3 linked regions of the Homo sapiens genome follow. The protein of the gene in region 1 interacts with the protein of each later gene in a pairwise test. Each region holds a gene or a part of one and is shown on either strand. Other genes may lie near its edges. The genes, in order: FARS2, AP1B1 and MAN1C1.

The links.
Region 2: the proteins of FARS2 (region 1) and AP1B1 interact in binary tests that used the Homo sapiens proteins (3 or more experiments, as listed by UniProt).
Region 3: the proteins of FARS2 (region 1) and MAN1C1 interact in binary tests that used the Homo sapiens proteins (3 or more experiments, as listed by UniProt).

What each region holds. Positions count from the first base shown.
Region 1 is NC_000006.12:5,768,463-5,772,256, reverse strand, and holds the end of FARS2 (phenylalanine--tRNA ligase, mitochondrial), read right to left. Parts: intron 967-3,794; coding exon 828-966; 3' UTR 674-827; downstream 1-673. UniProt on the Homo sapiens protein: Is responsible for the charging of tRNA(Phe) with phenylalanine in mitochondrial translation.
Region 2 is NC_000022.11:29,350,571-29,354,070, reverse strand, and holds part of AP1B1 (AP-1 complex subunit beta-1), read left to right. Parts: intron 1-2,245; coding exon 2,246-2,366; intron 2,367-2,804; coding exon 2,805-2,900; intron 2,901-3,500. UniProt on the Homo sapiens protein: Subunit of clathrin-associated adaptor protein complex 1 that plays a role in protein sorting in the late-Golgi/trans-Golgi network (TGN) and/or endosomes.
Region 3 is NC_000001.11:25,777,155-25,780,877, reverse strand, and holds part of MAN1C1 (mannosyl-oligosaccharide 1,2-alpha-mannosidase IC), read right to left. Parts: intron 2,774-3,723; coding exon 2,554-2,773; intron 1-2,553. UniProt on the Homo sapiens protein: Involved in the maturation of Asn-linked oligosaccharides. Trim alpha-1,2-linked mannose residues from Man(9)GlcNAc(2) to produce first Man(8)GlcNAc(2) then Man(6)GlcNAc and a small amount of Man(5)GlcNAc.

The sequences.
Region 1 (3,794 bases):
ATGCCAGGGATGGAAGCTGATTATTAAAACTGGTCATGAATGAGGCAGGCAGACTACAAAGTGCCTGGGATGGAAAGGGGGGAACATCAAAGCCCCATATTCTTCCCTAAAGGTCGCCTTCTGGAAGTGGAGGCTGCCTGCTGGGAAAACTTGAAGGGAGTTTGAGGACCTGGCCCCTCTGTGTGCCTCCAAGACTCTGGGGCAGCTCTCGCCCCTTTCCTTCCTCTCCAGTGGGGCAGAAGGCAGCTAAGCCCAAGTCCTGGGGCCAGAGGCCTGACTCCAAGCCATGGGTTTATGAAAAGCAAATAGATATCCTGCCCTGGCTGAAAGACGCACCTCCCTTCACATTGGACGAGAGCCCTGGCATTTCATTAGTGCCCTCTTTGAAGCCTGCCCTTTGCAAAACTGAAAAAGAAGAGAAGGGAGGAAGGAATGGAAGCTGATTCAAAAAGCTTCCTGTATTGTATCTGGAATTTCTGATGTCCCTCTGTGTGGCTTCACTCATTACCTGAGTGGAAGAGCCTGTCAGGCAAGAAATCATGCCTGGTGCTTAATGGAACCCAGGGACCAATTAACCATACTAAGCACCAATGCCAGTGGGCAAAGCACTTCTAAAAGGAATAGGAAAAGACCTTCCTCCTTTCCCCAAATAAAAGACAAATGCTATGTCAACAGCTTTTCAAGAGCGATCTTTTATTTTCTGAAAGTCCTAAAACTGATCCATTTATCAAAAGATGATTGATGCCCCAGTTCACAAACCATATCTTTTTCTCTTTCAGCAAATCCTGGAGCCCCAAGAGGGCTGCAGCCTGAGTGAAGTGGTGACATCAGAACCTGCCCTCCACACCCAACAGCTGGACTGCAGCCTCCTGCAAGGCCTGGTGGATGTGCCTGACCTCTCTCTGGGACAGAGTCCGTTCCATGTGGCGGTACGTGATGCGGTAGCAGTGGCTGGTCTTGTGCGTCCTACAGAGAGGAAGAGAACACAGGTGAGTGCGGGATGAACAAGGCTGTGCCTGAAGGAGCAGTGTGGCTTGCCCTGGCCAGATCTCCCCAACTGCAGTGGAGAACTGAGGTTGGAATCCAGGTACCATTTACCGCTAACAATCTGCATCTTATACAGGGGGAGAAGGTGACAGTCAGGGAAACATTCGCTTGACTAAAGGAGGCTGCTGGTTTCCACTGGGGTGGATGTATCAAAGTCCCCTGGGAAGGAAGCTGACAAATTTGATTTCCCAGGCCACGCTCTGGAGATTTGGATTCAGCAGGTGGGAGGTGGGACCTGGGCTTCTAAGCCTGTCCCCGGTTCCCGACGTGATTCTAACAAGCAGACAGGGTCAGGGGTCAACCCGCGTGTGCCTCCTTCATGTCATGGAAGGTAACCGTGTTTGTGAGGCAAACTGAAGTATCAGCAAGGCTCCAGGCAAGGCTGAGGGACTCACTCCCTCGGCACCCCTGTTGGCTGTCCAGGAAGCATACAGGCCATATATGCCGTGTATGTGCTGTGTAGAGAATTACTTTAGTCTCTCCTTTATGACATTGGTGTTGACTTGGCTTGCATAGAACAGCTGAGTAATTCTGGAATACGTGGAGATGACAGCAGTAGGGCCTTCTATTTGCATGGCAGGTGCTAAGACACACTGGTCAGTTGATCTCATGAGAAAGACCCCTGGGCCATGAACTGGCAGGCCTGGCCCTGTCCCCAACATGTCTCTCACTGGCTGTGTGGCTGGGTGTCTGACATCTCACCATCTCTGAATGCTCACATTTCTCTTCTTCTATACAATAAGGGGATCTGGTCACACAAATTCCTCTTTTCCAACCCCCAGCAGCAGCAGCAGCAGCAGCAGCAGCAACAACAACAGAGGCAACCCAATCCCTTCTTGGCCTTGGGGGAGGAAACTGAAACAAATTGAGGGCTCCCAGGCAGATTCCTTTTATGATGCCGTCAACCAGCCCTTAGCCTAGCCAGGGAGAGGCCACGTGCTTTCTGGCAGGTGAGACAGGGCTGGGCCTTCAGTAATACCAGGGCCTTGAACAAATGGGCTTCTGATTGAGCTGGACCTAGGCCACTCCCACATATTCACTGGAAACTGGTAGTCCCATTGATGCCACCTGAGTCCAGAGCCTTTGCTTCCAGGGTCCTCCCGACACTTCATGGATTGGTCTCACTGGATTCTCTCCTCTTTCCTCTCCCTCTCCCTCATCTGAATGCCAGAGCCCTTGGCTGGGCAGAATATGCCTGGTGCATGAGAGTCTGCCTTGGTCCTGGCCTCCCTAGTCTGCCCCTTCACCTCCCCTTCCAGTGTCTCCTCCCCTCTCTCCCACCCTGGCTTGGTCATCTTTGTCCTGCTTTTGTCCTTCCACTTTCAGGGAAGATAAGCTGCTATGCTGTGCCTCACAGGGTTATGTGCATTTTGGCCACATATGCAGCCCCCGTTTGGATCAAGCCACAGGAGGAAGTTACCACTGAAGGGCTGTGATAAACAAGCTGGGCTGGGGGTGGAAGTTTTCTGTAGGGACCTCCTGGGGATTCCCGATAGCACATGGAGGCCTGCCCCATTCCCTCACCCAATGTCAGCTGCCTGCTTTAGACCAAGGGAGAAATCAAATCCTCTCCCCACCTGGCTCTTTCTTTTTCAGTCCAGCTCAGGCCAATGGCTCTGCTCTGTGGACATTCCTCTGGGGTGGGGACCCTGACTCCTGGGGGAGGCACTGCTGCCCAAACTGCCCCAAGGACCTCCCACAAAGTAGAGTGGTCTTTTCTCCTCACTTTGTGCTCCGAACAACAGTACTCCAGGTACCATGCCCACCCAAGCCTTTCAGGCACCAAAACGCAGCGAGACAGAAAAACCTGGCTTTGAGAGGAAAACAGAGGCTCTCCAGGAGTGGGAGCTTATGAAACTACATAGCCAAGACCCCTGCTGCCACCAAGTGCTGACCCATTCCATTCAAACTACAATTGCTCCATTTACAGTTATTTGGTTTTTGACAAGAGCACCAAGACTATCCAAGGGGGAAATGTCTTTTCAACAATTGATACTGAGACAACTGGATATCCACATGCAAAAGAATGAAGCTGAATCCCTACCTCACACCACACACACACAAACTAACTCAAAATATATCATATATCTCAATATAAGAGCTGAAACTATTATCACTCTTAGAAGAAAACAGATGAGTAAATATTCATGACCGCATAGGCAAAACCTCCTTAGATGACACCAAAAGCACAGGTGAAAAAATTAAAAAAAATGATAAACTTGGAATTCATCAAAATTAGGCATTTTTTTTAATTCAAGGCATACAATCAAGAAAGTCAAAAAGGAACACACAGAATGGGAGAAGATATTTGCAAGTCATATACCTGATAAGGGATTTGTATCTAGAATATACAAAGAACTCTTACAACTCAACGATAAAATAGCCAACAACATAGTAAAACAAATGTACCAAAGATCTGAATAGACATTTCTGCAAAGATAAACAAATGGCCAACAAGCACATGAAAAAATGTTCAACTTCAGCCATCAGGGAAATGCAAATCAAAACCACCATGAGATACCACTTCAGGCCCATTAGGATGCTCATTTTAAAAACAAAAGGAAAATAACAAGTATTGGAGAAGATATGGAGAAATCAGGGCCTGTTTAGAAATTGACAGGACTCTGCAAATTATAAAGTGCTAATTGGGTGTGAGGTGAAAGTATCATTGTGGCAATTATTATCACATTGTGTTTTTTCACTGTTTCACTCTGGTCCCTCCTAGCAGAAGAGCTGGTAATATGGCA
Region 2 (3,500 bases), on another chromosome or scaffold:
TGGCTGAGCAGTGAGCTGCTGCTCCCAGGGCACGTGGTATGGTAGTGGGGGGTAGGCGAGAGCAGAAAAACCATTGAGCAGTGCTGGATCGGAGGGGTTCATGGCATGATCCCCTTCTTCCTCTGAAGTGGCTCTGAGTGGCAGAGCCCTGCAGCTCTGGGGAGGGGGATTGACCTTGAGTTCTCCTCACAGCTTTTGGTCAAATGGCTCAGTCAGCAGTGGGGACTTGACAGTAGCAACCATTGATCATTCGTGGGGACTTGACAGTAGCAACCATTGATCATTCGTATGTTACAGCAGGCCCTGTGGCTGGGAGTGGGGCTACACAGAGAACTGGGGCCTCATTAGTCATTTTCTCTTGGAAGACAGCACATCCTCCTGGTTGTAGCTTCAGTCTGGGTCTTAGTACTCTCCCGGGGGACCCAGAGATATTGGTCGAATTGGGTTATTAGGGAGGTAAATATGGGAAAGCCTTCTGAGTTCCTAAACCAAGGGATGAAACTAGGGCTTCCTGGTTGCAGTGTGGGTCTTTATACGCCAGTGCCCTTGGGTCACGGATTTAATGCGGCGTAGTGACTAGTAGAGCAGATCAGCGTGCAGGATTCCCTGTGCTATATTTAACATAGTAAATCTCTTAAGAATTTGTCCACGTCACTGAGACATGCCCTGCCCTGGTCCTGAGATGTGGCTGGGCAGCTTTTGCCAAGTCCTAATCGCAGAAATATCTTCCTGCTACCCAGCTCGGGGTCTTGCCTCTCCCATGGGGCACGACAAAGGCTCCTTGCTTGGCCAGGACCTCCCCGCAGTGTGCACAGCAGCACAGAGTACCCAGTTTTCTCCTTTCTCTCTGTCCTGTCTTCTCCCTTCCTCACCATCTGTCCTCGTATCTTTTCCTTCCTCCTCTCTGTTCTGGAAGGGCATAGGAGTAGGAGTCAGAGGCAGAGGATTCTCGCCCCACTCTCGTCTTTACTGACATTAGCCATGTGACCTAGTACCAGCCTCTCACCCTCTCTGAAGTTTCCTTGTTCAGGAAAAATGTGGTGGGTGATACTCGCGGAAGGCAGAAGGATGTTGCCTTTGAGGGAGGAACAATGACACATGTGAAAGGGCTCAGCTAGTGACAGCTCCTGCCTAGCGGTGCCTTCTCTGAGGCAGGCATCGATCATGCTGGATGCTTCTCGTCTCACTCTCACAGCAGGCCGATTAGGTCGGTGTCCATGTTGGGGTCCCAAGACCACCCTCATGCTCAGGTTTCACTAGCAGTACTCACAGGACTCAGCATATATTTTTTAAATATATATATTTTTTGAGACAGGGTCTCACTCTGTTGCCGAGGCTCGTCTTGAACTCCTGGACTCAAGCAATCCTCCTGCCCCAGCCTCCCAAAGTGTTGGGATGACAGGCATGAGCTGCTGTGCCCAGCCAGGACTCAGCATATAGCTATACCCACAGCAAAGATCTATCAGCAGCAGAGCAGGGCTGCCCGGCTGGGTCATAGGGGAGAAGGACACAGGTGGAGTCTGGAGGGTTCCATGAGAGGCTTCCTTGTACCTCCTCCTTCCCATGGGGAGTCATACAGAGCACACTCCTCCCCCAACAAAATGCAGCAACATGTATGTAATGTTTCTGCCCAGGAAAGCCTATTTGAGACTTCGGCACCCAAGTTTGTTATTGGGGGCACCTACACAAATTCCATATTCCCAGTAGGGAAGCATGTGTTCAGCATAAACTGTATTCTTTGTACAAATGGTCTAGGTACAGTTAAATACCTTTATCATTTAGGGAACAGTGAGAACACTTCAAAATCCAAGTTGCCACGTGCCAGGCCTTCTGAGGCTAGCAGTCCCAGACCTGCAGTAGTAACATGTTTCTGTACAGCGTCATTCCCATTTCATGGGTGAGGAAACAGGCCTGAGGTCACAGGCTGGGACTGGGACTGAGATATGTCTGATTCCCAAGCCCGTCCCATGGGGCCTGCTGCCTCTGGAGAGTGAGTGAGCCGTCTCTCACTGCCCTCCGTCTCCCTTCCGGCGACGTGCTCAGGCACACAGGAGCAGTCACAGCCTTGCTCAGGCCGGTTGCTGGGCCCTCTACCCAGGAGCTTGCAGCCATGGCAGTGACTCTGCCTTCACAGACATCAGGCTCCACCTCAGACCCCAGAAATGTCCCAGCAAATGTGGAGGGCATTTTCTCACAGGGCTTAAGCCTTGTTTTTTGCTCTCCGGGCATCCTGCCCCACCACCAGGCCTGAGATCCTGAAGCATGAGATGAAGGTGTTCTTCGTGAAGTACAACGACCCTATCTACGTGAAGCTGGAGAAGCTGGACATCATGATCCGCCTGGCCTCTCAGGCCAACATCGCCCAGGTCAGCTGCGTGTGATGGTCAGGACACGGGCTCAGTGTGGGACCATTCCACCACCACCAGACTGTAGGCTCTGGCCCAGGTGACCAGTCTCACCATTAACGGTTTATCTCATGAAGAGTGTTTAGCATGGGACATGGGGCTTCGTAAGCAAGTAAAAGAACTGATGTTTTTATTACTAAAGAATGTTTCTCCATGTTATCACCTGTCATCCCTTACAACGTGGTGTTGGATATGTTAGCTAAATCAACCCCAAACAAGGTTGTCCAGGCCTTCTTTCCTTTTCAGGCACCTGCCAGCTCTCTCCCTTGGGCCTTCTACCTGGAGCAGGAGGCAGAATCCCATTCTCCTAGGGAGTCTGTGTATATTCACTGCCCAGGAGTGTTCCAGCAGATTGCCCCATCAGGTGCCCCAGCCCCATCTTTTCTGTTTGGGCCACAGGTGTTGGCAGAGCTGAAAGAGTACGCAACAGAAGTGGATGTGGACTTTGTACGGAAGGCTGTGCGTGCTATTGGCCGCTGCGCCATCAAGGTGGAGGTGAGGCTCTGGGACTCTGTCCTTGGCTGGAGAAGGAAAAGGGGGCTGAAACCGGGAAACCAGTCTGATTCAAGCAGAATCTGCCAGCTTGCTTGTGGTCTGGGAAGGCCTGAGGCTCATCACTGGAGCCCCCATGGCAAGCATTGTGCAGATCTGGTGGGGTTCCTTCTCACTCTATAGTATCCTTTAGGCCTTCGAGTTGCTGCCGATCAAATTAACCCATCATAATCATGGTTCTCCTGCAGCATTTGTTAAGATGCTGGGGCAGCCACAAGTTAATGGACTTAGCATTCACTTCACAGAGCTCTGGGGTAAGGGCCCTGCCTGTTGAACACTTCTTGGCAAATATTGTCATCATTCAGCTGCCCACGTGCCTCTGTGTCCCAGCGTCCCAGGGCCACTCTAGACTCCTGTGTCCTGGCATTTTATCCCCGTCCTTTCTCTGTCTGTGGAGATGTTCCTCGACCACTAAGCCAGATTCTCCTTAAATGGGTCCACTGGTGGCTACAGTGTCCTAGGATAGGTGGTCGCCCCCGACCTATCCCCTTGAGGCGTGCTCACCCTGGAGCCTATGATGCCGTCCTGAGAAATCTCCTTCAG
Region 3 (3,723 bases), on another chromosome or scaffold:
AGGAGAGATGTCAGTTGCCTTGAACCCGCGGCCAGGGTGATGTCAGGTGTGTGTGGGTGTGGGGTGCCCCTGCCTGGACTGCTGTGTAAGGCTGCACCGGGCAGATGCACAGCTTCCCTCTTGGCCTGGGCTGGACAGAACAAGACCCTCGGGGACTGGAAATGTGAGCAGCTTTGGACTCTGAGAGTCCAAATGAGCTACTCAGCAGTCTGGGTAGGTGAAGGTTTGGGCGGGGTTCCACAACTGTGTACTTTGAGGCAATAGCTCTGCAAGAGGTTAGCCAGACCTCAGCCAAGAGGGTTTCGGGTTTCAACACATCTGGGGAACCGAGGGTTAAACAAAATAAGTCTCCCATCTGCAGGATTTATCAGATCCTTTAATATGCTAATGTGAAATGAGGCTTCTCCTTGGGACCCTTTGTCTTAGAAAACTGCTTTTAACACCTCCCAGAACAAACTTCGAGAGTTTGGGAACAGCTGAGGTAGAGATGGAGGGAAGATTGCCCAGGAATGCACCTACTCCCACAGAGGGAGCTGAGGAAGGAGGGCCTGAGGGAGCCTGGGTTCTGTCATTGTCACTGTTTGGTTTTGAGGCAATTTGCTGTCATTCTTGTCATATGGCCATAATTATAACCACCTCTGTAGCCACTATTTATGATTTCAAAGGCCGTGCTGGGTGCTTTAATACACTATTTCTATCCTTAAAAAATGTTTCTTTAGTAAGGTAATTGCTACTATCCCTCTCACGCATGTGGAAACTGAGGATCAGAGAGGCTAAGTAATTTGCCCAAGGTAACACAGCGAGTTGTGGCTGAGTTGGGACTTGACCCTGGATGTGTCTGATGCCTCTCCTAGGGCGGTGCTCTTTCCCTCCTGGGTCTAACCCTCATAGGCCCAACATGTAGGGTATGAGGGCCAGATCCTTCTCCCTTTAATGCCTGTCCCTCCTGTCCAGGTCACCCAAGTCCCCAGCTCCATTCCTAATGTGAGCCCTCTTCCCTACTACCAGGGTTCAAAACCCTGAGAGGCCCTAGGTTGCTTTTACTTTAGAGGCAGGGGTTAGAGGTTTGCAGGACTTCCTGCTCTTCCATGGAGGGCTTCAGGGAAGAGGAATTAGCTAGACCCTAGCCTCTCTAACCTTTTCAAATGGTGTAGCGGCTCCTGGCCATCAGAAAACAGTCATTTTGCCAAGTCGCTAGTGGGGTGAAGGCAGGAGCCACTGCTACAGGCGTCCACAGGACAAGCCGAGGCTGGCTAGAACAATATGCTTTATTAAGCGGCTGTCTTTTATGGTCTGGGCTGATTGTCTCAGACAAATAGCGAGCCTTTTATTAGTCCTGAGATTTCTTATTTGTTTATGGCCCTGGCAGAGCAAGCTCTTTGAAGAGAATGGACAACCAGTTTTAAAGACCCATTGCGAATCTCTGACTTCCTGGAAACAGCTCCAGGAGACCCCATTCAGCTGGGGCGGGCACAGACACATCATGATGGGCGGTCAGCAAGTGCCTGCAGTGCTGCTGGCCAAAGGTGGCTGCCAAGGTACTTTCTCATGGGACCCTGTGCCTCACTCTGAGACCTGTGTCATGATTCCCATCGAACAGATAAGAAAACAGAGGCTGCCCATCTGGCCTCTCTAATCTTTTCAAATGGTGTAGCGGCTCCTGGCCATCAGAAAACAGTCATTTTGTCAAGCGCTGCTTGAGCCTGGGATTTTTACTGCAAATCTTGGGTCGTCCCCTCCAACCAACACTGGGATTACCACTCAGAGCGGTGGGCGTCTCCTGGGACCACACGGGGGCTGGGGATTTTTCTGAGGGGTGCAGTTTGCGCACGGGGTGGAACCAGGCATCAGAAGGCCTGGGTTCCAGCCCAGGATCAATTCCTCATGTGCAGTGTGACTTTGGCTAAGTCACTTCCCCTCTCTGGGCTGACTCCACTTCTCTGTGTAGAATGAGGAGCCAGGCTCAGGCTCTCAAATGTGACCTCTGATTCTAGCATCGGACAATTCAGTGGTGAGTGGTGGGTGGGGAGGACCAAGCTCTCAGGCTTTCCGGTGATCATGGGTCAAAGAGGGCGACTAAACAGGTGGGAGCAGGAGGCGGTGAAACCCCCTCTAAGGAGGGTGCCGGGGGAAAGGCAGAGGCACATTTGAAAGTAGGAGACTCAGGGTGGGACATGTGCCGGGCTCAGGAAGCCGCCGTTTCTGCCTCCGGGGCTGGAGGATCCTTTACTCTGTGCCCCTCTCAAGGGACCTTGGCCAAGTAATCTCTGAGCCTCAGTTTCCTCATCTGTGTGGTGAGGTTCAGTGATGTTGTGTCAAGTGCGGAAGAGTACCAGGTACATGCAAAGCGCTTCCTGTGTCTGTACTAGTTTCCCTTTCATTCAGGGTATGGTCTCGGAGCCTGGAGAGTACCTCTCTCAAATTCTACTTAACTTCCAAGGGGAGGCTTCCCTAAGGCCATGTGCTCCCTTCGCTCACTGCTGCCGGTCTTTCCAGTTCTTCCTGGTGTCTAGCCTCAGTCTCTCCTGCTGCCCCTTCCCCTTGCAGGGTTACCTGAGCGGGCGTATGACTCGTGACACGTCTTGGTGATCTGGGCTGCGAGCTCTCGGTAGTGGGCCCTCTTTTCTTCCTTGGCATCCTCGGCGCCAAGGGCGATCATGCCCCCGGAGAAACAGGCCAGGTGCCCCATCTTGTGGTCCAGAATCCCCCCTCGCCACTCGGCAATGTAGGTCAGCCCCCCGGGAGAGACATTCAGCAAGTAGGTCTCTATCGCCTGGGAGCAAGGTGGGGATTGGGCAGGGAGAAGGGGCGTGGGAGGGCACAGAGAAGGGGGGGAAAGGATGGAAAATGAACATTTTGGAGACAGTAGCAAGGGCAGCTCTGCCAAGCCCTCCATCCCAGGCAAAGGAGGCCCATTGATCTCTGCTGGTCAAGATGCCTGCCAGGGCACAGGAGGGGCTGCTATTCGCTGGGAGGCTCAGACACAGGGCAGCTCCCCAGGGCAAGTCTCTTACACAGCCTTTAAAATCTTCCATGTTTTAAAAAACGTTAAAAAATATTTTAAGGTGATCCTCCTCCTCCATTATGTCCTCTGTTTGATCTTAACCAGAAGCCCAGCTGGCCTGTGGATGGGCTTCAGGGGTCCAGGCCCTTAAAACTGTACCCAACACTTTCTGGTGGATGTGCATCTTTATGGGAAGAGTGTCCATCTATTCTTACCAGTTTCTCAAAAAGAACCTGCAGAAAATTAAGAGCTGTTCTCTAGGAGTATCTTGTCACACGTTTCCTCATTTAATGCCTACAGCAAGCCAGGCACCTGGGCTGCCGCGCCCTACACAGACAAATGGGAGGTGTGGCAGCTTGTCCCAGGCCACCCAGCCACACCAGCCTAGAAACAAGACCCCACAATGTCCAGAGCTCTGCTTCTTCCACTACCTGATGGCCATGCCTTTTGGTGGGAAGGGAGGTGATGCTGTTGTAAAGACTCTGGGATGTCGGGGGCGTGAGGGGGTCAGACTGCTCTCACCCCAGGAGCCCTGGGGACCAAGGGGAGGGAGGAAGCTGCTCACACAGTCTCGAGGCCAGACTCCATGGGCTGGTGGGGCCTGGCCCATGGCTGGGGTCCTCTGGGGCCCTTCCAGGCCTCTGCCTCCACTTTCACCCCTCCAATCTACTCTCCAGGGGGTCTCTGTACTCTGCAATTAACAAACCGGATCATATCAT